7 linked regions of the Homo sapiens genome follow. The protein of the gene in region 1 interacts with the protein of each later gene in a biochemical or structural test. Each region holds a gene or a part of one and is shown in the gene's direction. Other genes may lie near its edges. The genes, in order: MAP3K5, GEMIN5, BIRC2, LATS2, CDC25C, CDC25A and USP9X.

Region 1 (3,500 bases):
TCTCTGCTAATTGTATTCATCTTTATTGCATGAAAAACACAAAGTCTAATTTTGGTGCACAGAGTTTATTCTAAGAAACCATAAAATTGATATGAAAGTGTAACGTAGGAGTGTCATTTCATTATTGCTTTTGCTCCTTATTTACTAGTAAATTCACTTCTCTGAGTTTTATTCATATTATCATCTATACTGCCAATCTCAATTGTTTCTATGAACTGTTCTCTGATAGAGCAAAATCTTTTAAAGTATCAATAAATGTCTGTTGATTGTGAGGGTCTCAGATGACCTCTGTTAGGTGAAATTAAGAATATCTTCCCAAAATTCTGTTCTAGAAATTCCTGAATTGCCTGTATTTCATCTAAATTCTTCTGGCACAAATACTGAAGATTCTGAACTTACCGACTGGCTGAGAGTGAATGGAGCTGATGAAGACACTATAAGCCGGGTAAAGAAAACTGTCTGTGGGACAAGTATTCTTTCACTTCGTTTCATAATGTTGGGTGCCTGCTATGTGACAGGCACAGGGGATACACTGGTGAGCAAATCAGACCCAGCCCTGCCCTCCTGAGGCTTACAGACCAGGGTAGGCACGTGATAATCAGCTAACTCCACAGATACAAATGTGATTCTACACTGGTAAATTCTATGAAGAAAAAGGTATCAGGTGTTTATTAGATAGGGCGAGAGAGGTTGGGGAAGGTTGTTGGAGAAGGGAATGAAAGAGCTGAAGGCTAACAGAATGTGAGGGTATAAATAGGCCAATTGTATGTATGTTCAGGAGGGGTGTGGGAGGGAGACCAGGGAAGAACCTTGTGCAGTGGGGCTGCAGTGTGTACAATCCAACGAGGCAGGCAAAAGCTCTGTGGTCCTGAGCCCCTTAGGAATTTTATGTATTTGAAATGAAAACCAGAAAGAGTGGGAAAAAAATAAAGACAGGACTAAAAGAAAAAATTTCTTGTTTCTAATTCTTTGTATGTTAATTTTTATTTTATTTTATTTTATTTTATTTTATTTTATTTTATTTTATATTTTTTTGGAGACAAGGTCTCGCTCTGTTACCCTGGCTGGAGGGCAGTGATCATAGCTCCCTGCAGCCTTGACCTGCTGGGCTCAAGTGATCCTCCCACCTTAGCCTCCTGAATAGTTGGGACTACAGACATGAACCATCATACCCAGCTAATTAAAAAAAAAATTTAGAGATAGGGTCTCGCTATGTTGCCCAGGCTGGTCTTAAACTCCTGGCCCCAAGCGATTCTCTCACCTCAGCCTCTCAGAGTACTGGGGCTACAGGCATGAACCACCACGCCAGGCCTGTTTGTTAAATTTTTAATTCTTTTTCAACATTATTAGATTCCACTGGGCAGCAGCTATTTTATTGCTACTTAATAAAATCAATCTGGTCGACTTATTTCAGAAATATTTTCTATACAAACCATATTTTACCTGTAATAATCTAATTCCTCTCTGCTCTGTATAGACTTTTTTTGATTTTGTTTTTTGAGACACAATCTCACTCTGTCGCCCAGGCTGCAATGCTGTGGTGCGATCTCAGCTCACTGCAATCTTTGCCTGCCAGGCTCGAGAGATTCCCTGCCTCAGCCTCTCAAGTAGCTGGGATTACAGGCATATGCCACTAAGCCTGGCTAATTTTTGTACTTTTAGTAGAAACAGGGTTTCACCATATTGGCCAGGGTGGTCTCGAACCCTGGCCTCAAGTGATCTGCCCACCTCAGCCTCCCAAAGTGCTGAGATTACAAGTGTGAGCCACTGCGCCCAGCCCCTATAGACTTTTGTAATGAGCGTGAATAGCATTTGTTTATGTTCATTATATGAACACACAGGCATACATTAAAACATTGTAATATTTGATAGAAAGACCCTCTTAATACAATATTGTTTTGTTTTATATTTAAATTTTAAAAATAAATAAGAATAAAGATATCTCTTCTTTTGACTTGATAATTTATTAACTAAGTAGAATTTCGGGCCGCCTTAGAAATCTACATTTAACAAGTTACAGCTGAATAAATTTAAACAACTCCAGAATATACATTCCTCTAACTTAGGCTCAAATCCTAATTAAGGAATAGTAATTGATAATCTACTAAATAATCACCCTTTTTATTTGGTTTAAAAGTAAAAGCTTGAGGCCAGGTGCAGTGGCTCCTGCCTGTAATCCCAATACTTTGGGAAGCATAGGCAGATTGCTTGAGGCCACGTGTTGGAGATTAGGCTGGTCAATATAGTGAGACTGTCTCTATATATAAAAAAATAAATAAAATTTAAAAATATAAAGGTGCAGTTTAAATTAAGACTCTGCTTTTATGGTGAATTACAGTCAAGTGCCTTTGCTTAACCATGAAAAAATAAGTTCAGAAATTAAGCATAGGCAGTACCTTTCCAGGAACACTTTTTATCCACTTGAGGAAAAACAAAGCTATGTAGCATTGAACTTCTAAATACAAGATTTGCTTTTGAACAGCAGAGTGATTACAAGTGAGTCTCATCTGTTCATTAGAAGACCATTCAGAAGTTCTGTGTCACTTGTAATCTTTTTGCATTTGGAAGTTAATATGGATGCATTTCTTGTTTTTGTTTTTGTTTTTGTTTTTGTTTTTGTTTTTTTGAGACGGAGTCTCACTCTGTCGCCCAGGCTGGAGTGCAGTGGGTCAATCTCAGCTCACTGCAACCTCTGCCTCCCGGGTTCAAGCGATTCTCCTGCCTCAGCCTCCCAAGTAGCTGGGATTACAGGCATACGCCACCACGCCCAGCTAATTTTTTGTATTTTTAGTAGAGATGGGGTTTCACCACTTTGGCCAGGCTGGTCTCGAACTCCTGACCTCAGATGATCCGCCTGCCTCAGCCTCCTAAAGTGCTAGGGTTACAGGCGTGAGCCACTGCGCCCGGCCTGGATGCATTTCTTTGTATTTATTGAGTAACAGGGAGGCCTTTCCCCTAATAATCCTGGAAGATTGTGTTTTTAGTAGATTTCATTTTTAGATTCATTTTTAATTATAGTCAAGGTTTACATTATGAATAGAGTTTGTGCTTTATTAAAGTTATATAAAACATCTTTTGTGCATATTCTACTTTCTCTACAGTTTTTGGCTGAAGATTATACACTATTGGATGTTCTCTACTATGTTACACGTGATGACTTAAAATGCTTGAGACTAAGGTACCACTTTTCTTTCTGTTGTCACTATGGAAAGAGCACCAGGCAAATATCAAAAAGTCTGAGTATCTTCCCAGGCTGGGTCTCTAATTAGCTTTGTAGTTCTGGACAGAGCTCTCTAGCTCTTAGCTGCTCTGAGTAAACTGAGTTAGTTGGACAATGATATTTTTGAGGGCTCTAATAACCAATATTTCTATATTAGTAAGTGAAAATCAACTGGAAGAATTTTTTTGAATAAGATGCAGACTAAGTCCATGCAGATATTCTGAAGCTGCCTTAAACAAATGCTTTAATTGAGTTCATGATGGTGTTATACTCAATAAAT
Region 2 (3,500 bases), on another chromosome or scaffold:
TCTTATTATAAAATACCCAAAAATACCACATTCCTTACTATCACCATCAGTCTCATCAGAAAATTCTAACTTATGGGAAACTCAGGCACACAAGTGGTAGGTACAAGTTTTCTAAAATTCTAATTTTTGCTAGAAAACTCGCATTTTATCATTAGTAACAAATACTGTTGGTTGTTTTTAATGAAGTGATAGGCCTACTTTGTTCATTTTTGAGAAAAACATCTGCCAAATACCCAACACTGAATAACTGTTATTTATGTTAGTCATTTTTTTTTTTTTTAGAAGAAAGAAGGTTCTATGAAAAAGCAGCCAGTTTAGCTTGTAATTTGTTCATACAGGTGTTACCTAGAGACAACCATTCTACTTTGGAATGCAGCAGAGAACACAAAATGTTCTTCCCATTTGTCACACAGAATATTAAAGTGTTTTGGACTTGACGGATTTAGTAAAATTTGTAATTTTTACTGCTTCATTAAGGGCATTCTTCCTTTTTTTCCACTGTAAGAGCCACCGCCTTCCTTCTTAGATGCCAGGTTTCCCAATCACTGCTTTGGCACAATCAGTGCAAATGTCAACACATTTTTTTTTTTTTAATAAAAAAGCACATAACTGACTCTTAGCATTGTTACGAAAATAGTTTTAACCTCATGAACCCTCTGAAAGGTTCTTGAGGACCCCCTAGGAATCCACAGACCACAATTTAAGAACTGCTGATCTAAGTGAAGAAACGAATGCAGCATATGTTTCTAATTTGTCTATATAATGCAAGTGCAGTTTTTAAAGGAAGTTGGAACAATAAGACAACACAAAAGGGACAGTTTGTCCTGTCTTACAGCCCCTCCTAGGACCATACACAGAGGAGCCTTTTCAGATTGGCTAAAGGGTCTGTTCTTGCCTTTAGGGAAGCTATTGCGATTGCCAAGGCCCGGCTGCGCCCGGAGGACCCAGTCCTGAAGGACTTGTACCTCAGCTGGGGAACCGTCCTAGAAAGAGATGGCCACTATGCTGTAGCTGCCAAATGGTAAGCCTGAGGAGTGGAGGGATGCTTCCAACATAGGAGAGCTTCTGCCAGGAAGGGGAGGACAAGAATACAAGTAATAAGTTTAGAGGTGGAGGTAAAGCAGCAAGGAATTATTTAAAAGATATGTATATTCAACTTAGTTTCATAAGACTCATCAGGAACTACTTCCTGATTTATTTATATAAATCACTATAACTATTCAAGAAAAACCTCAGCAGCAGATTAAGAAATTATGCATTTTTCTAATGGTCTCTTATAACATCAAATAAAGGAACCTCAACCCATGCTGGATTGAACCCAACAGAGGAGTCATTCCCTCTCATTTTCCTTATGTCCTTAACCTATATGATATTGTTTCTCATACACTCTGCTGAGTTGTGTTGGCCTCAGCCTTCACAGGAACAACCGGGGCAGTGACATACCTGGGACCACAGGAAGGCACATGCAGCAAAGTAGATAGAAAGAAATGATTCCATCCTCTAGGAATGGGAATAAAAATCTGTTTGTGACATTTTCTTCACATTTTTATTCATATTATAGCTATTTAGGGGCCACTTGTGCTTATGATGCAGCCAAAGTTTTGGCCAAAAAGGGGGATGCGGCATCACTTAGAACGGCTGCAGAGTTGGCTGCCATCGTAGGAGAGGATGAGTTGTCTGCTTCCCTGGCTCTCAGATGTGCCCAAGAGCTGCTTCTGGCCAACAACTGGGTGGGAGCCCAGGAAGCCCTGCAGCTGCATGAAAGTCTACAGGTCAGTCTGTTATTTCATCTCCTAGTATACAAGAGGGAAGTGTCCCAAATCCTTTTCTAGTCAAATCCAAGTTAATAACCCAGTTGCACAAGCTGTGCCAATTTGGCAGGCCCAGCAAGCCCTGGCCATGCTATCCCACTGAAGTACTATGACTTGTTAGTTGCCGTATTCAGAGTAAGAGATAATATGGTCATTCACAGTAATTCCCATTGCTTATCTGTTTGTACAAAACACCTGTGAGCCGGGCACAGTGGCTCATGCCTGTAATCCCAGCACTTTGGGAGGCCGAGGCAGGCAGATCACTTGAGGTCAGGAGTTTGAGACAAGCCTGGACAACATGGTGAAACCCCGTTTCAACTAAAAATACAAAAATTAGCCGAGCGTGGTGGCACGCTTCTGTAATCCTAGCTTACTTGGGAGGCTGAGGCAGGAGAATCACTTGAACCCGGAAGGCGGAGGTTGCAGCGAGCCAAGATCCAGCCTGGGCAACATAGTGGGACTCTGTCTCAAAAAAAAAAAAAAAAACACAAAAAAAAACACCTTAGTCAGCCCAGGCCTTGGGTTGGCAGTCTAGGGTTTCTTCATTGATGTTATCAGCACTGTCTTCCTTGAAGAGAGAATGGTTGGCCTCTAACAGAAATCATGGAACTCTACCTGTAAATGCCCCTCTTAACTGTAAGCTATGGAAAAAAAACTGGGCCAGATGCAGCAGATCGCTTGAGATTAGGAGTTCAAGACCAGCCTGGCCAACATGGCGAAATCTTGTCTCTACTAAAAATAAAAAAATTAGCCAGGCATGGTGGCACACATCTGTAATTTGGCTACTTGAGAGGCTAAGGCAGGAGAATTGCTTGAACCCAGGAGGCAGAGGTTGCAATGAACCAAGATTGTGTCACTGCACTGCAGCCTACGTGACAGAGTGAGACTCTTCAGAAAAAAAAGAGAAAAGTGTGGGAAAATGGAAATCTCTTTATTTCTTAAATTTTTTTGTTCCCATCTGATTAAAAATCAGTAACATACCACTGCCTTTTTGACACATCAAAACAGATTAAAGCATTGGCACACTTACCTAGTTTCTGAAACATGTAAACATTTGATTCACTTTAGATAACTTTGTGAGATACTAACAAGAGGTTTTTTAAGTTCTTCATTCTCTAACAGAGTACAGGGCCTACAGATGGTTTTTAGCTGAATATTTAGAGCCCAAGGAACGTGGTACATGGGGAGGTAGCTTTCTAGGAACAGCAGAATAAAAATGGAGGTGAAAATAGGACACCCTAAAAGATAATGCCACTGGGCATTATTTATAAAATGACCAAGTCTAGAAAGATTTTAATTTATCCACCATCAAAAAAAGTTTCCAGAATGACTGTTTAGCATTTTATTTTTCTCTTAAACAGCATCCTTAACAAAGCAAAAAAACCTAATAAGCATATGCTAAATATTCTGATAAGGGCTATTTTGGTTTTGTGCAACAGAGACTCTTGCAAGCTTAACTGAGAAGATATTGTTATAGGAGTACACAAGGAATCTCATGGCAACTAAAAATCTAGTGAAAGTAGATTTTCTAGGCCTTCTCTGTGCTTCTGTTTTCTTCTCTCCCAGCCAGCTTCCTCTATTAAACCTATTTGGACATGGCTCCTAATGCCTGTCCCAGCTCTTGGATCTGCAAAGCTTGTCTATTCCAGCACCTTTGGCCCATTATGCTTTTATTCCTGAGTCCAAAGT
Region 3 (3,500 bases), on another chromosome or scaffold:
TGCTTTGTTTACCTAATCAAGCCTGGGCAATGGCGGGCGCCCCTCCCCCAGCCTCGCTGCTGCCTTGCAGTTTGATCTCAGACTGCTGTGCTAGCAATCAGCGAGACTCCGTGGGCGTAGGACCCTCCGAGCCAGGTGTGGGATATAATCTCTTGGTTCGCCGTTTTTTAAGCCAGTCTGAAAAGCGCAATATTCGGGTGGGAGTGACCCGATTTTCCAGGTGCGTCCGTTACCCCTTTCTTTGACTCGGAAAGGGAACTCCTTGACCCCTTGGGCTTCCCAAGTGTGGCAATGCCTTGCCCTGCTTCGGTTTGCACACGGTGCGCGCACCCACTGGCCTGCGCCCACTGTCTGGCACTCCCTAGTGAGATGAACCCGGTACCTCAGATGGAAATGCAGAAATCACCCGTCTTGTGCGTCGCTCACGCTGGGAGCTGTACACCGGAGCTGTTCCTATTCGGCCATCTTGGCTCCTCCCCTCCTTCAATAAATATTTGTTGAGCATGAGCACCAGTGCCAAATACTGTGCCTAATCACAGTGGTTGCTGTCAAGGAGTATATACACTAGCTGGCGAGACTAGTGTGCAAAAGACAGGGTTAAAGGGCCAGCAGAGAGGCGAAGGTTGCATATGTATTGGAGTATTGCGTTGGAAGATGCTTTCTTTTTAAGCTTGTAAGTAAAGACAGGAATAACTTAAGAGTACCTTATTGCATGACCGTGTAGCAAAATATTTAAAGTCTGGACTTCTACATTGAAACAGATTTGTGTTTAAATTCTAGCTCCAGGCTGGGCGCGGTGGCTCATGCCTGTAATCCCAGCACTTTGGGAGGCCAAGACGGGCGGATCACAAGGTCAGGAAATTGAGACCATCCTGGCTAACACGATGAAACCCCGTCTTGACTAAAAATACAAAAAATTAGCCGGGCATGGTGGCGGATGCCTGTAGTCCCAGCTATTCGGGAGGCTGAGGCAGGAGAATGGCGTGAACCCGGGAGGCAGAGCTTGCAGTGAGCCGAGATCGTGCCCCTGCACTCCAGCCTGGGTGACAGAGCCAGACTCCATCTCAAAAAAAAAAAAAAAAAAATTCCAGTTCTATCAGTTACTAGCTTGGCTATTTATTCAACCAGACATCGGCTTTCTCATCTGTAAAATGGGGATAATAATAGTATGACTCCCATAGGGTTGCTGTAGGAATTAAATGAGATATTGCAAATAAAACACTTTAACACAGCTCCTAGCACGTCAATTTTTTTTTTTTTTTAAGCATTAGGTAGATTGACTTGGGAAGTGGGAGGGACTTGGTGAAAGAAAGGGCCTAAGAAAAGTCAATTTAAGGATTGTTAAGTAGTAATGAAATCCAGCTAAGGTTATATGAAATCACTGTCACCTTAGATTTATGACTTTCTCATACTTTGTATGGGTTGGAAAATAGTATTGAATTACAGATTTGGCAGTGTTAATAGGGGAAAGGGCAAGTAAGGAATACGGAAGATGAGTTAAGGGTGCTAATATAGAGAACTTCATTGAAATACCTGACTGCTACCTAGATTAGAATAGGAGGTTTGAAGCAAAGCCAGGAGATAGCTCTTGTGCAAGTAGAATTGGGAATGACATGGAGATCTTGAAAAGGTGAAGAACAAATTGGTTAGCAGTGAGAGGAATTATTTAGGTAGAAGAAAAAGTTGTCACAGAATGGAATTTTATAGTTTTGAGATTAATAGAGCAGTTCACTTCTAGAGAGATGTAAAAGGGGAAAGAAGATAGGCTTCTGTTTTTATAATTTATTTCTCATTAAACTGGTACTTTGTAGAGATGTACTTTTTAAATTTTTTTGAAAGTCTGAAAATAGACAAATTTTATAATGATTCAGATACCAAAAGAAGGAACTACCATATTCCATAAATATAAATTAACTGTGGAGTTTTATGTGATGCGATATTAAAGGAAAAACATTGGCTTTTTAAAAAAAGGTCAGGCTTGATTCTTAGGTAGTTTTTTTTAATTGCTATAAACATAGACATTTATAAAATAATAATGGTAGTTAACTATGTACCACATATTGTGCCAGATGCTTTACATGTATTATTCAATCCTTACAACTTTGAGGAAGGTACCGTTATGTATATTTTACAGATGAGGAAACTGAGGTGTATGGGGAAGGATGAGGACACATAGCTAGTGAGTGGGCCTAGCCAACACTGGAACCTAGGTCTGTTTTGACTTGGCAACTCAAACCCTACAATACTACAATACCACGTCTTAAGTATGGGGTGTTGAAAAGAACACTGGTCTAGGATGCCTGGTTCTGCAGCTTATTCTTTCTTGTGATCTTAGGCCACTCATTCTTTTCTGAGTCTTTTTTCTCCCTATGTAAAAATGAGAGGCAGTAATACTCGCCTTGTTTAATTGACAGGATCACTGTATCAAATGAGACAAATTACTATGAAAGTGCTTACAAAAGTAAAATGATATAATGGAAATACAAGAGTATTATTATATATGGTGGGGGGAAATTTTTACTGTCTTCTACAAATCTCTTGCAACAAAATAAAGTAAAAGCGGAGTTCTAGGACATGTAAATATATAGACTTAAAAATTAAACAGAGACTTCCTCTGGAAGTTTTCCAAACAACAAACTTACAAATGCAAACAAGTTACTTTGTTCTTTTTTGAACTTTATTTAGTGCCTAAATTGTTTGTAGGGTTGGTTATTAGTGACTATATGAGTATAGTTAAAGGAGTTTAAAATCTAATGGATTTCTTTTTCTTTTTTTAATGAAGATGATTTGTCATTAATTCGGAAGAACAGAATGGCTCTCTTTCAACAATTGACATGTGTGCTTCCTATCCTGGATAATCTTTTAAAGGCCAATGTAATTAATAAACAGGAACATGATATTATTAAACAAAAAACACAGATACCTTTACAAGCGAGAGAACTGATTGATACCATTTTGGTTAAAGGAAATGCTGCGGCCAACATCTTCAAAAACTGTCTAAAAGAAATTGACTCTACATTGTATAAGAACTTATTTGGTGAGTTTGTTGGGAAAATTATTTTAGAAATTCTTAGGACTGGCCAGATGCGGTGGCTCAGTTTTGTATTTAGTAGAGTAATGGTTTTTATGTTTTCTTTCCTCAGTGGATAAGAATATGAAGTATATTCCAACAGAAGATGTTTCAGGTAAAACAAAGATTTAAAACCAACATGAACTATTACCCTTTTTTTTTAATGAAGTGGAAACAATTTCACTAAAGTTATTTTTTGTTATTAGGTCTGTCACTGGAAGAACAATTGAGGAGGTTGCAAGAAGAACGAACTTGTAAAGTGTGTATGGACAAAGAAGTTTCTGTTGTATTTATTCCTTGTGGTCATCTGGTAGTATGCCAGGAATGTGCCCCTTCTCTAAGAAAATGCCCTATTTGCAGGGGTATAATCAAGGGTACTGTTCGTACATTTCTCTCTTAAAGAAAAATAGTCTATATTTTAACCTGCATA
Region 4 (3,500 bases), on another chromosome or scaffold:
TAAATTGGAGCTGTACATGTTCCTTAGCAAATCACAGGGTTGGTGGGAGGGGCTTTCTTTTGGTGGGAGGGGAATGATTTTACAATAAGATTCCTTGTTATTTTAAATGCTATGTTGTAAATAGCCAGCCTTGGGCTCCTAAACTCCACCAAGGGGTGGGGTAGGGTGGGGATTGAAGCTGATAAATTGACCATAAACAGAGGAAGGATTTCGGGAAGCTGGGGTTAGGGGAGAGGTGTTCTTTTTTGTATTGGAAAAACCATACCAACACCATTTTCGAAAAGCTGCTTTTGTATTTTATTTTGTAGTTAAAATCTTGTGAAACTTCTGAACAGTATTTCTTACTGACTTTTTAAAAACAGTTGGTGTGAAGAAATACAGAAGGTAAATTCAAATGCATTGACTCTGTCTTGACTAAATCTGTTCTAAAAAGTACCGAAATATTCTGATGATCAGAAAGAAGGGTAAGGCTTGATTGAAGTGACTGACTTCTAGCTCTAAACATTCTCTGAATCTTCTTCCTTTTAAAAAGTCTATTGCTTAGTAATTCCTCTAGAAGGAATCGGCCTTCAAATTACACAAGTCCAGGGGCATCGTTCCCATTGTATGCTAGGTCACTGCTGCTCTCTGTAATGGGCTTTATTACATAGAGTGCCCTGTGATGGCCCCAGTGTGAGGGCAGCCCTGCTTGGGATGTTCATTTCACTGTTAGCTGTTCTCTCAGTATTTTAAGGCTAATGTTACATAATGTTACGTGATTTTTATTTTTCATTTTTTTTTTATTTTTGAGATGGAGTCTCGCTCTGTCACCCAGGCTGGAGTGCAGTGGCACAATCTTGGCTCACTGCAAGCTCCTCCTCCTGGGTTCACACCATTCTCCTGCCTCAGCCTCCTGAGTAGCTGGGACTACAGGCGCCCGCCACCATGCCCAGCTAATTTTTTTTTTTTTTTACTTTTAGTAGAGACGGGGTTTCACCGTAGTAGCCAGGATGGTCTCGATCTCCTGACCTCGTGATCCACCCGCCTACAGGCATGAGCCACCGCGCCCGGCCTGTTACGTGATTATTAGTTTTATTTTGAAAGTATGAAAACAGCAAGGTAATATTGGAAATAAAGACATTGGTTATGATGTTAAAATTAGAATGGAAATTTGGCATTGTTTAATGTTTGCCGTTCACCCTGGGAAGACTTTGTTGGTTATCATCTAGATCATGTCAAGTTAATTGTGACAAGTGTTTTAAGTTAATTCACAAATACTTTTTGTTTGTGTGACAATATTTGACATACATGGGAATTTTTCTGGGAGAAAAATGAAAAAATCCCATATTTTGTAGCCATGGTTTGTATTTCTTGTTAACACTGATTGTTAGAATCTTGTAGTGTAGTTTAGATCCTATAGACCCTTGATCAGTTAGGATGGTAAGGATCTTAAGAATGTAAGCTGGATTTTGAAAGGAGTGGGCCTCTGTTTGGAATAGTGAGCCTCCCTGCCTCTAGGCAGTTATCTTGAGCAGGAATGCTAAGGGCCAACATGGTTCATTACTAGTTAACTCCATTCTTACTCGGGAGTCTCACTCATTTTTCTCATTAAATGTACCCGGACGACACCTGCACCCTCCCCAACATTTTTTGGCTGTTTTGTTCATCTTTCTCTCCCACGTTTGAGCCTTTTCATTGGAAGTTCCAGGCTCCAAGAATAGCTTCACACTTCCTCCATCAAATCATAGCCCTTCCAGTCTTTCTAATTTTGGTGAAACATCCCTTTCTCTAAGATACCTTCTCCAAATAATCTCAACACCTTCCTGAAGAATTGTGCTCCTCCATGGAAGTAGGCAGGGATTCTTTGGACAGTCACAGTATTTATTACTTCAGTCCATAGCAGTGATTCTCAAATGGGAGGGGTGTTCTAACTCCCTAGCTGGAGCGTATCCAAAACTTGGAGGGGTGCAGAGGAGGCAAGGCTTTCTTAACGATTGAGAACCCCTGCTGGGCTATGAAATTGAATATAAGATGGCCCATCCTGTTGGGTCGCTTGCTATTAGGAAAGCTGCAAAGAACTAATAATGTATCTGCAACTTGGTCACTCTGTTGTGATATCTTGAGTACAGACTTCTGTAGCTCAATTTTTTTATGCCATTTATATTTGCATAATGTATATCATAAAAATATAATGTACAAAGCTGTCTAATAGAGAATGTGATGGTGTCTTTTTCCCCGAGACTGTAAGCTTATGTAGAAGTGATACTCTGGCTGGGCATGGTGGCTCATGCCCGTAATTCCAGCACTTTGGGAGGCCGAGGCGGGGGGATCACTTGAGTCCAGGAATTCGAGACGAGCTTGGGTGACATGGCGAAACCCCATCTCATGGCGAAACTCCCCCTCAGATCTTGCCACTGCACTCCAGCCTGGGCAACCAGAGTGAGACCCTGCCCCCCCCACCAAAAAAAAAGACCCAATTCTACCTAGGTGAGACCTTATAGTGTCCAGCACAATGCTCAGTACACATATGGCAATGCCAAATTCTCTGAGGCCTTGTGATGATGCTGCTATTGGAGAGTGGGAATTCTTCTAAAGTGTGTTTTCCTGGATCCCCAGAGGAATGCAATCACTGCCTTCCTCAAAGACCCTCATTATGAGAGGTAGCCCTTGGCCTGTGGCTTCCTGGCTTGACAGTGCTGGTGTGGTACATCCACATAGTGGTTTATGATTCTGACATTTAGCATCTGGCTGGAGGCCTGGCCCGTCTGCCTGATTTAGTTTCAGCTTTGCTAGTTAATTATAGTAGGGATATGATTTAAATAATAGCTGGAATTTTAGGTTCAAGAAATCCTGCTTCAGAAAATGCCAACATGTGTCATTAGCGCAGGTCCCATGAGACATTGGTTTGGTTGGTTCCTTGGTTGGTGCTTGATGTGTGTTTGGCAGCCAGTGTGGGTTTGTGAAGCACTAGGATAAATTAGAATAAAAATTCTTGAACATCTGATAGCATTTTCCAGGATTGGATTGAGGGTTGGAATTGGGTTTGGTAGGACCAAATTAAAGGCATGCTTAAAATTTTGCTCTCACATTGTTTACACAGGCCACCTATATTAAGCATGGGATTTAGTAGTTGTCTCAGCTCTGGATTTAGAGAATGAGGTGTTTTTGTTTTGTGAGTTGTTATGGTTTTAAAATTCCAGTGTTTGTAGTTTGTTACTTAAAATGTGTGTGAATCAATTGGTGATGCCAAAGAAATTTCCAAAGTTAGATTTACTTTGCTTGATATCCCCATTTTTTTTAAAGTCCACATCCATGAGGGTCATATTTATAAAACTCTTGATGAAAGAAAAATTTCCCGTATGTGAAGTCTCATTAAAATGGTATAGTAATATGTCAGAGTTGTTCATTTCCAGCTGCAGTCTTGACTGATGAGTATTCTCATGAAAATTCTTTCAAAAGTTCATAATTTGGCCATGAAATCAACTGTCTTCAAACTAAAGCTTAAAATACACTGTCTGAAG
Region 5 (3,500 bases), on another chromosome or scaffold:
TTTCTTTTCTACCCATAAGAAAAAAAAAAACTCCATAGGTAGCATAGTGTAGTGTTTCCCAACACTTGATTTCTTTTAGTGACACATATAAATTCTTACGTTTCTGTGAAATTGTACCTTGTACCATGAAATGGGTACCAATCGAGAGGCTTTGTATTCAAAAGCTCAGTCCTTGAAATTAATACGGCTTACTGGTAATGAAGAAAATCTGAAGGAAAAACAGGATGCATGGACAAGAATAACTCCTTTTACTGATTCTTTATATTTGATTGCAGGTCACCTGGATTCTTCAGGACTTCAGGAAGTGCATTTAGCTGGGATGTAAGTTCTGTTGTTAAATGAACCCCACACAAAAGCCTTTTAGCACTGGTCATAGAGATTTTATCCTGTGCAGACTCTGCAGAGTACAAAACCTTTCATACTGGGTATAAGTGGGCTTTGAGGCCTAGTTCCTTACCTTGAACAGTTTCTAAGTTTTCCACATCTAAATAGTGTTGTGAAAATGAAGGCTATTCATTTTAACCATCATAATCAGAAGTATCTATAAGGAAATGAAGGAAAATGGTATACTACACTTATGTATAGGCTTTTATTTGTATGTGAAAGGTGCTGTATCTTAGTAATTGAAAGTACAGAGTGGCCGGACACGGTGGCTTACATCTGTAATCCCAGCACTTTGGGAGGCCAAGGCAGGCGGATCAGTTGAGGTCAGCAGTTCAAGACCAGCCTGCCCAACATGGTGAAACCCCGTCTCTACTAAAAATACAAAAATTAGCTGGATGTGGTGGCACATGCCTGTAATCGCAGCTACTTCGGAGGTTGAGGTAGGAGAATTACTTGAGCCCAGGAGGCGGAGGTTGCAGTGAGCCAAGACTGCGCCACTGCCCTCCAGCCTGGGCGACAGAGCGAGACTCCGTCTCAGAAAAAAAAAAAAAAAGAAAGTACAGAGTATAAGCTCTGGAATCAGTGTGTGGATTCCTGGCTTACTACTTCATTCACCAGTTGTGACTCTGACAAGTTTTTTTTAACTTCATTGGACCTTAATTTTTTTTATTTGTAACGTGGAGACAATAATAGCATTTCTCATAAAGTAGCTATTGTAAGGAGTAAATAAACTGTGTATCTAGCACATACCAAGCATTTTACTTATGTATTTATTTTTATTTTTGAGATGGAGTCTGGCTCTGTTGCCAAGGATGGAGTGCAGTGGTGCCATCTTGACTTACTGCAACCTCTGCCTCCCTGGGTTCAAGCGATTCTCCTGCCTCAGCCTCCCGAGTAGCTGGGATTACAGGCGTCCACCACCACGCCCGGCTAATTTTTGTATTTTAGTAATACAAAAATGGAGGCTTCACCATGTTGGCCAGGCTGGTCTTGAACTCCTGACCTCAAGTGATCAGCGCCCCACCCCCACCCACCCCTTGGCCTCCCAAAGTCCTGGGATTACAGATGTGAGTCACTGGGCCCAGCTTGAATTGCTTTAAATGCTCTAACCCAGATAGATAATGAAATCCATGGAGGGAGGATAGAAATTAATTTTTTTTTTTTTTTGAGATGGAGTCTCGCTCTGTTGCCAGGATGGAGTGCAGTGGTGCGATTTTGGCTCACTACAACCTCCGCCTCCCGGGTTCAAGTGATTCTCCTGCCTCGGACTCCTGAGAGGCTGGGACTACAGGCACATGCCACGACGCCCAGCTAATTTTTGTATTTTTAGTAGAGACAGGGTTTCACCATGTTGGCCAGGACGGTCTCTATCTCTTGACCTCGTGATCCGCCCGCCTTGGCCTCCCAAAGTGCTGGAATTACAAGCGTGAGCCCCCGCGCCCAGCCTTTTTTTTTTTTTTTTTTTTTTGAGACGGAGTTTTGCTCTTGTTGCCTAGGCTTAAGTGCAATGGCGCGATCTCGGCTCACCACAACCTCTCCCTCCCGGGTTCAAGCGATTCTCCTGCCTCAGGCTCCCAAGTAGCTGGGATTACAGGCATGCGCCACCATGCCTGGCTAATTTTGTATTTTTAGTAGAGACGGGTTTCTCTGTGTTGGTCAGGCTGGTTGCGAACTCCCAACCTCAGGTGATCCGCCTGCCTCGAACTCCCAAAGTGCTGGGATTACAGGCGTGGGCCACAGCGCCCCGCCAGAAATTAAATTTTTTTAAAAAGTTAGCCCCGGCCGGGTGCGGTGGCTCACATCTGTAATCCCAGAAGTTTGGGAGGCTGAGGCGGGCGGATCACGAGGTCAGGAGATCAAGACCGTCCTGGCTAACACGGTGAAACCCCATCTCTACTAAAAATACAAAAAATTAGCTGAATGTGGTTGCAGGCGCCTGTAGTCCCAGCTACTCAGGAGGCTGAGGCAGGAGAATGGCGTGAAACCGGGAGGCAGAGCTTGCTGTGAGCCGAGGTCGTGCCACTCCAGCCTGAGTGACAGAGCCAGATTCCGTCTCAAAAAAAAAAAATTAGCCCCAATACACTGTGCTGGAAAATTAGTAAATTGTAAATTGTATAAAACTCGTTCATCTTTGGAACATGTTATATGGTTATGCAGGCAAAATGAGGGTCTTATCCCCAGGATGTCACTTGAGTCTTGATATTTACCACAGAGAATACCCTATGTATTGTTGTTGGAAGAGACATATCAACTAGGAATAGGGCTCCTAGAATGAAATAGAAAAATGTTGGGATGCACCAATCCACTGAAGAATAATCAAACAGTATTTGGGACTAACCTGACAGGCAGTTTGTTTTAATCTGCAGGAATCATGACCAGCACCTAATGAAATGTAGCCCAGTGAGTAGCCTCTCTTTTTTTGGGTTTTGTTTTGCTTTTCAGGTGGGAGGCAGAGGGTTTCCATTGCACCTGTGGCTTGAGGATGCTGGACGTTCTCAGCAAACTCTCTTTTTTAGGCACAGCTTCTTTGTAGCACTCCGAATGGTTTGGACCGTGGCCATAGAAAGAGAGATGCAATGTGTAGTTCATCTGCAAATAAAGAAAATGTGAGTGTTTAATGGAAACCTAGATATATTGGCAGTTTTATTTTTTGAGTGAAGAAACTTGGTATCATAATGAGACATAGAACTGTTTATACCTCGTATGCTAGACAAGGAAACTGTATTACTATAGGGGAGAAAATTTCTTTGTTTTTGTTTTTTCTTATTAAAGTTTGGCCCTAGGACAGACACCCAGCTCCAAATCTTCCACAGTAGGTCATCATTATTTCTCATGTTCAGTTGATCATTTTGAGGACAAAAATTACCCTTACTGTAGTGTAAGGGATTTAGGAGTTTTTTGTTTGTTTGTTTGTTTGTTTTAACAGGTAGGGATAACTTGCATAACTTGTTCATGGATTTTTTTTTACCACTTTACATGCAAGTGTAGATTAATTTCTTATTTCCCCCTTAGTCTAGCTTTTAAGCCCTTATTCCGAGGAGGCCATGGTACTTTTTATCTAAACCTTAGGCCATCCGTCGTTCCAAGTTAAATCTAGCCTCTCCGGAGCCACCTCA
Region 6 (3,500 bases), on another chromosome or scaffold:
AGGGTCTTGCTCTGTTTTCCAGGTCTCAGGCTGGTGTACAGTGGCACAATCAGGGTTCACTGTAGCTTCAACTTTCCGAGCTCAAGCGAACCTCCCACTCCAGCCTCCCCAAGTAGCTGGGACTACAGACACGTGCCACCACACCCAACTAATTTTTTTTTTAACTTTGGTAGAGTCAAGTCTCACTATGTTGCCCCAGGCTTGTTTTGAACTTGTGGCCTCAAGCCATCAGCCTGCCTCAGCCTCCCAAAGTATTGGAATCACAGGTGTGAGCCACTGTGCCTGGTCAGTAGTTGTATTTTTCAAGCCTCATATGATTTGACAAGGTAAAACGTTTAAAAACTATGCCAAGAAAATCTGGTACCTATTGTTTCTATGGTTGGAACTCACAGAAAGTTATCTGGGTCACCTCTATCTGAATAACCAAACAATCATGATATGAATCAGTTTTATTCACCCTCTTCTCAAATCCTATTTCCCTTGATGTTATTTGCAAATAGGAGAAAAAACAGTAAATACGCTATGAAAATATTAAGACTTGTACAAACATGACATTTTTGACAATCTAATAGACGTAACATCAATTCTGGCAAAAGTACAAGCCATGAATATTTGTTGCCTGACTTAAATAAAGACCCAGGTACTTTGTTTAGTGTTTTAATTTTAATGACAAAATGGTGTTTTTTGTATTATTTCTTGAGAGGTTTTTTTTTTCCCCATAGGTTTCTGTCTAGATTCTCCTGGGCCATTGGACAGTAAAGAAAAGTATGTATTCACTGCTTTCAAATGTTTATATGTAGAAAAAACGTGTCTAAACTTAAATACCTTATTTAAATGAAGTTCTTCATACACTGGACTGGAGCCCTGGATTTACCTGTGCCTAGAAACACTCTGGAATCTCAAGAATGAATAGTTTGTGTCAGCAATTTTCAGAACTTTTTCTCCTTTATTTTAGCTATAATTTTGGTGTTCTGTTTGGGTCTTACCCAAACCCTTACTCTGTGCTCTGACATCATAGCCTTACAAGAACATGTGGGGTTTTTTTGTTTGTTTGTTTGTTTGTTTCTGAGGCAGAGTCTCACTCTGCCGCCCAGGCTAGAGTGCAGTGGCTCACTGCAACCTCCACCTCCCAGGTTCAACTGATTCTCCTGCCTCAGCCTCCCGAGTAGCTGGGACTACAGGAGTGCACCACCACACCCGGTTAATTTTTGTATTTTTAGTAGACACGAGGTTTCATCGTGTTGGCCAGGCCAGGAGTTCGAGACTCCTGACCTCGTGATATACCCTCCTCGGCCTCCCATAGTGCCCATAGTGCTGGGATTACATGTGTGAGCCACCGCGCCCAGCCGAATGTGTGTATTTTAAGAAAAGACATGGGTTTGTTTTTTTTCACCTAGAAGTCTAGTGTTGGGGGTGCTCCTGAGAACAGGACAGCTTCAGAAATTTATTCTCCCATCTCTTGCCTAAAATGGGAGTCTGTGACTGTACCCCCAAGCTACAGGCTAAACACTATCTCTCTGCTAATATGAATACCTCTTTACTTGTTTTATTCTCATTATTTACCTTCTGATCTCATTACAGCCTTGAAAATCCTATGAGAAGAATACATTCCCTACCTGTAAGTTAGTTCCTTGTTTATTTTGAGCTAATACCTGTTATCTGTTCCTTAGCTACCAGCATGACCTTGATAGGAGACTTAATTTAGAGAGTAAAAACTGCTTTTCTTTAGTCTCTTTTGAGACAAGGTCTTGCTCTGTCACCCAGGCTGGAGTGCAGTGGCAAAATCTTGGCTCACTGCAACCTCTGCTTCCCTGGCTCAAGTGATCCTCCCACCTCAACTTCCAGAGGAGCTGGGACTATATATAGGTGCACACCATCACACCCGGCTGATTTTTGTATTTTTTGTAGACATGGGGGTCTCACTCTGTTGCCCAGGCTGGTTTCAAACTCCTGCCTCGGCCTCCCAAAGTGCTAGGATTATAGGCAAGAGCCACTATTCCCAGCCTTTCCTTAGTCTCATAAGTACTCAAGATGTTCGGTCTGGAGGAATTTGTCCTCCATCTCTAACAGAGCTTTATTAAACCAGGAAGGGTTCTTTTGATGCAAATGTTATTTGGGGATTGATTTGGCACTGTAATCCCTGTTGAGGGGGGCACTGTAGACCTTGTGAGGTTAGCTGTAAACCCATGGAATGGAAACTTCTATGCTGTGTCCTGGCTGTGTCCTGGCAAGGTGGATTCCTGGCCACATTTACTGGTTACCTACTGCAGTGTGTGAGGAGCTAGTCTACCCCCTATTCAACCCCCCTTTTTTTTCTTTTGAGAACTGAATTTTCCACTGAAATTTTATTTGTGTGCCTTAATTATTTTCCTTTTTTACTTTGATAGCAGAAGCTGTTGGGATGTAGTCCAGCTCTGAAGAGGAGCCATTCTGATTCTCTTGACCATGACATCTTTCAGCTCATCGACCCAGATGAGAACAAGGAAAATGTGAGTGTGACTTCAATGTACTAACCTGAGGCAGAGGTGAAACCCACAGGCTGTCAGTGGCTTAGAAGTGGCTGGGCTGCTTTCTGGGAGACTAAACTTGGCCATTATGTGCGGTCTTTGGAGTCAGAGAATTCTGGGTTTGGATCCTGCTTACTAGCTGTGTGATGTTGGCAAATTCTTCTCTTTTTAATCTTTGCTCTTTTGTAAAATAGGAGTAGTAATACCTTTTAGGGATGTTGTGGCAATAAGTAAGATTATGTATGAAGTATTGAAAATGGTGCCTGACAGGCGGGAGTTGCTCAGATTGTAGCTCACAGGAGTAATTACATGTACAAATAGTGTTTGTCTGGAAGGCTCTGCCCAGGCTGTCCTTGCCTCTTTGCTCTGACCCTGAAATGAATTGTAAGCTTAGGAAAAGGCTCTTTGGCAGTATTTGTAAGAACGGGGTCAACAAGTTCTAGGGAATCTCAGAGTAACTGAAATGGTGGCTTGGAAGGTGAATTTCTGGTTATCTACCCTGAATGAGCCTGGCTTTTTTGTTCTTTTAGACATTGCACAGAGTAGGCATCCAAAACAGTTGTAATTTTTTCAGCCTTCTCTCTACTGTATTTCTATATATTTACTTTCTCCCCTTTTCCATTCCTGCTGAAATGCCACAGTTCATAATCCTTGTCCTTACAATCTTCAGGTTTAGTGTGAAACCCACTGCCTCCATGAACTCTCCTGATGATTTCTTTATCAACCTGGGAAGTGTCATGAGAAAGAATATGGAAATGAGTTCCAGCCTTGAGTGCTTGGAACAGTGTATCAGCCTCTAGTGCTTTTTACCAGGGCAAAGCTGTACTGATGCCTGGTTTTCCCCCGAAATAGCTTCTCAGGGTTGCTTGCCTGGAGCTTTGTTTTAAAGGGAAAACAGCATAGATGGTGGTTAAAGAGCTCTCACTCTGGAGTTGTCCTGTTTTACTTCAATATTTTGGGCACATTCCTTAACCTGCAAGGTCTAGTTTTCTC
Region 7 (3,500 bases), on another chromosome or scaffold:
TTGAATATGATTTTTATTTTGTATTTTACTTTAAAAAAGGTACTATACCAATATAAATAGCATTTTGGAGTGAATTTTGATATGAAGGCTTTTTTCCAGAAAAAAAATAAAGTGCATTGTGGCATTTTTGTTGATGCTTTTAACAAAATGTAAAACGACCTTTTAAATGTAAAAGGTAAACTCTACCTTCTTTTTTTGAATTTTTTTTTTTATTAATACAAGGTCTACCTATGTTGTCGAGGCTGGTCTTGAACTCCTGGGCTCAAGGGATCTTCTTTGCTTGGCCTCCCAAAGTGGTAGGATTACAGGCATGAGCCACTGCGTCCAGCCAACCTTTTACATTTAAAAATAGTCTTAGTGAGTTGGGCTTTTACAGCATAAAAATAAGCGTTATATCTTGGATTTAATTTCATTTTAGTAGACACCTCATTTTCTGCAACCATAGATACAAGACTAACAACAATAGAATATGATTATGTTTTTAAATATTATTTATATTTTTAGTTAAAAGGAGCAATATTTTTTTTTCTTTTGCATTTCACTCTTGTTGCCCAGGCTGGAGTGCAGTGGTGCAGTCTCGGATCACTGCAACCTTTGCCTCCCAGGTTCAAGCGATTCTCCAGCCTCAGCCTCCCAAGTAGCTGGGATTACAGGCGCCCACCACCAAGCCTGGCTTATTTTCTGTATTTTTAGTAGAGATGGAGTTTTACCATGTTGGCCAGGCTGATCTCGAACTACTGACCTCAAGTGATCCACCCGCCTCGGCCTCCCAAAGTGCTGGGATTATAGGCATGAGGCACCATGCCTGGCCTTATTTTCAAGATACTGAAAGTAATACAGGTTGAGTATCCCTAATCCAAGAAATCCAAAATTTGTCTGGTCCCAGACATTTCATATAAGGGATTCTCAAGCTGTATTAAGTATCTTTAATTCACATCCTCTTGTTTAATAAGAAAATACTTAGTGTTAAATCCCCAGCATTATTTTCTTGGCAACAAAATTTCAGAGTCTGCTGAATATGATGATGTCTGTCTTTCTTTTTCCCCCCAGAGCATTCCGCGGTAAACACCTCTCTTTTGTAGTTCGATTTCCAAACCAGGGCAGACAGGTTGATGACTTGGAGGTATGGTCTCATACAAATGATACAATTGGTTCAGTACGACGATGTATTCTCAATCGTATTAAAGCCAACGTAGCCCATACAAAAATTGAGCTCTTTGTGGGCGGTGAGCTGATAGATCCTGCAGATGATAGAAAGTTGATTGGACAATTAAACTTAAAAGATAAATCGGTATGTATGTATAGTTAACAGATTTTTCAATAAAATCAAACCAGAGACTATCGTTTAATCAGTAAATACTAATTGAGCATTTGTTATGTTTGGGACTGTGTTAGGTGTTAGAGTTATAGCATTAAAGTATAGCATGTAGTCTTTCGGATTTTTTGGTTGGTATATCACTAAGTTTTGTGTTTTGTGTAAGTATTTTTCCTTGTTTTTGATATTAACATAGTATATAATTTTCAGCTTATTACAGCCAAACTTACACAGATAAGTTCCAATATGCCTTCAAGCCCTGATAGCTCTTCTGATTCCTCCACTGGATCTCCTGGAAACCATGGTAATCATTACAGTGATGGTCCCAATCCAGAAGTGGAAAGCTGTTTGCCTGGAGTGGTGAGTAGATACAGTTTTGAACTACTGTATGTAAGGCATCATGCTAGGGTTTTTGAGAATAAAGTATATAGAGTGGTTCTTTCTTTTCTTGAGGAGCTTACAGTTTAATGAGACAAAAAAATACAGTTAACCACCAACTTCAGAATGGATCCCTCTAAAAGGTAATTGTAACACAGTTGGAATTTAAAACATAATTTCCCCATAGGTATAGTATTGTTACTTTTACATAAAATTAACCAATTAGAGCTTAATTATAACACTATTGGATGTATAAATTTAGAGGAAAACAGTCATCCCTCGTATACGTGGAGAATTGGTTCCAGGACCTCTGCATATACCCAAAATGCTGCAGATGACCCTGTGCAACCAGATATACAAAAAGTTAGCCTTCCATATACTTGGGTTTTGCTTGCTGGAAATACTGAATTTTCTGTCCACATTTGATTGGGAAAAAAGTCTGCATGTAAATGGACCTGTGCAGTTCAAACTTGTGTTGTTCAAGAGTCAGCTGTATCACTTTCTAAAATTTATACCACAAAACGGATAGTTCTTTTAGAACTATATATGAGCTGGGCATGGTGGCTCACACCTGTAATTCCAGCTACTGGGGAGGCTGTGAGGCAGGAGGATTGCTTGAGCCCAGGAGTTCTAGGCTGCAGTGAGCTGCGATTGTGCCATTATGCTCTAGCCTGGTCAACAGAGTGAGACCCCATCTCTAAAAATATAAATAAATGAAAACAAGAACTATGTAGGAAAATACCTGTAATCTTTATCAGATTGTCAGTAACATATAGCCAAAGAAATATTTTTAAGCTCTCCTTTCGCCCCTCCCGACAGAAATTTTAATGGTTACAATAGTAGCAGCCACTCCAGTGTCAGGAGGATTTGGCTCTCTATAACAACTGGATTAAGAATTTGGTAGTGGGCATGGCAGCCTTTTGTTATGTCCAGAGTCTAAATTGTATATATGAGAGAAATGGTTTAATAGAACAGGAGAGGAGCTATCACAAAAAAATGACTGGAAGTGACTTGATGATGTATTTGATCTGCACTATTAAGGATTTGTAGGGATTAAAAGATGGGAAAGTCAGACTATTTCAAAGAGTAGAAATTTCATAAGTAAAAGTATAGGGATTAACACAGAGAAACTTACTTGGGCTTTTATAAAACGGGAGTAAATAATTTAGAGGTAATTATTTTGTGTATTTTATATTCTAGATAATGTCACTGCATCCCAGATACATCTCTTTTCTTTGGCAAGTTGCAGACTTAGGTAGCAGCCTAAATATGCCACCCCTTAGAGATGGAGCAAGAGTACTTATGAAACTTATGCCGCCAGGTAAGAATTTTTAAATGATGATCAAGTACTTGCTGGACAATAAAGGAGTATATTAGCAAATTCTGTTTCTAAATGGACCGTGCTTTTTGGTATAGACTATAACAAGAGTTGACAGATGACAGCCCACAAGCCACATCAAGCCCCCTGCTTGTTTTTGTGCATCCCAAGAGCTATATTTTTAAGTGGCTACAAAAAAAAAATCTAGAAGAATAATATTTTGTGATACATGAAAATTATATGAAGTTTAAATTTTAGTGTCCATGATCAAAACCAGGCTCATTTGTTTACATTCAGTCTACATGACTGCTTTTGTCTTAAAATAGCACCGCCCAGGAGTTGTGGCAGAGGCCATATGGTTCACAAGCCTAAACTGCTTAACTTTCCTGGCCCTTTACAGAAAATGTTTGCCTATACCTGGACTATAATATGGGTCATGTGTCATCTGCGGTATTGTTCCTTTTTTATCCTTAGAAACAACCACTTCCA

Evidence for each region.
Region 2: the proteins of MAP3K5 (region 1) and GEMIN5 form a complex in vitro, tested with the Homo sapiens proteins (one study listed by BioGRID).
Region 3: the proteins of MAP3K5 (region 1) and BIRC2 form a complex in vitro, tested with the Homo sapiens proteins (one study listed by BioGRID).
Region 4: the proteins of MAP3K5 (region 1) and LATS2 form a complex in vitro, tested with the Homo sapiens proteins (one study listed by BioGRID).
Region 5: of the proteins of MAP3K5 (region 1) and CDC25C, one has a biochemical effect on the other in vitro, tested with the Homo sapiens proteins (one study listed by BioGRID).
Region 6: the proteins of MAP3K5 (region 1) and CDC25A form a complex in vitro, tested with the Homo sapiens proteins (one study listed by BioGRID).
Region 7: of the proteins of MAP3K5 (region 1) and USP9X, one has a biochemical effect on the other in vitro, tested with the Homo sapiens proteins (one study listed by BioGRID).

Annotation. Positions count from the first base shown.
Region 1 is NC_000006.12:136,558,478-136,561,977, reverse strand, and holds part of MAP3K5 (mitogen-activated protein kinase kinase kinase 5), read left to right. Parts: intron 1-332; coding exon 333-445; intron 446-3,101; coding exon 3,102-3,178; intron 3,179-3,500. UniProt on the Homo sapiens protein: Serine/threonine kinase which acts as an essential component of the MAP kinase signal transduction pathway. Plays an important role in the cascades of cellular responses evoked by changes in the environment.
Region 2 is NC_000005.10:154,896,712-154,900,211, reverse strand, and holds part of GEMIN5 (gem-associated protein 5), read left to right. Parts: intron 1-901; coding exon 902-1,021; intron 1,022-1,561; coding exon 1,562-1,772; intron 1,773-3,500. UniProt on the Homo sapiens protein: The SMN complex catalyzes the assembly of small nuclear ribonucleoproteins (snRNPs), the building blocks of the spliceosome, and thereby plays an important role in the splicing of cellular pre-mRNAs.
Region 3 is NC_000011.10:102,374,714-102,378,213, forward strand, and holds part of BIRC2 (baculoviral IAP repeat-containing protein 2), read left to right. Parts: intron 1-2,782; coding exon 2,783-3,037; intron 3,038-3,143; coding exon 3,144-3,185; intron 3,186-3,276; coding exon 3,277-3,470; 3' UTR 3,471-3,500. UniProt on the Homo sapiens protein: Multi-functional protein which regulates not only caspases and apoptosis, but also modulates inflammatory signaling and immunity, mitogenic kinase signaling, and cell proliferation, as well as cell invasion and metastasis.
Region 4 is NC_000013.11:21,055,087-21,058,586, reverse strand, and holds part of LATS2 (serine/threonine-protein kinase LATS2), read left to right. Parts: intron 1-3,500. UniProt on the Homo sapiens protein: Negative regulator of YAP1 in the Hippo signaling pathway that plays a pivotal role in organ size control and tumor suppression by restricting proliferation and promoting apoptosis.
Region 5 is NC_000005.10:138,325,305-138,328,804, reverse strand, and holds part of CDC25C (M-phase inducer phosphatase 3), read left to right. Parts: intron 1-275; coding exon 276-321; intron 322-2,750; coding exon 2,751-2,784; intron 2,785-2,900; coding exon 2,901-2,990; intron 2,991-3,500. UniProt on the Homo sapiens protein: Functions as a dosage-dependent inducer in mitotic control. Tyrosine protein phosphatase required for progression of the cell cycle. When phosphorylated, highly effective in activating G2 cells into prophase.
Region 6 is NC_000003.12:48,181,918-48,185,417, reverse strand, and holds part of CDC25A (M-phase inducer phosphatase 1), read left to right. Parts: intron 1-722; coding exon 723-765; intron 766-1,581; coding exon 1,582-1,618; intron 1,619-2,387; coding exon 2,388-2,489; intron 2,490-3,500. UniProt on the Homo sapiens protein: Tyrosine protein phosphatase which functions as a dosage-dependent inducer of mitotic progression. Directly dephosphorylates CDK1 and stimulates its kinase activity. Also dephosphorylates CDK2 in complex with cyclin-E, in vitro.
Region 7 is NC_000023.11:41,168,945-41,172,444, forward strand, and holds part of USP9X (ubiquitin carboxyl-terminal hydrolase 9X), read left to right. Parts: intron 1-1,050; coding exon 1,051-1,291; intron 1,292-1,525; coding exon 1,526-1,675; intron 1,676-2,893; coding exon 2,894-3,014; intron 3,015-3,500.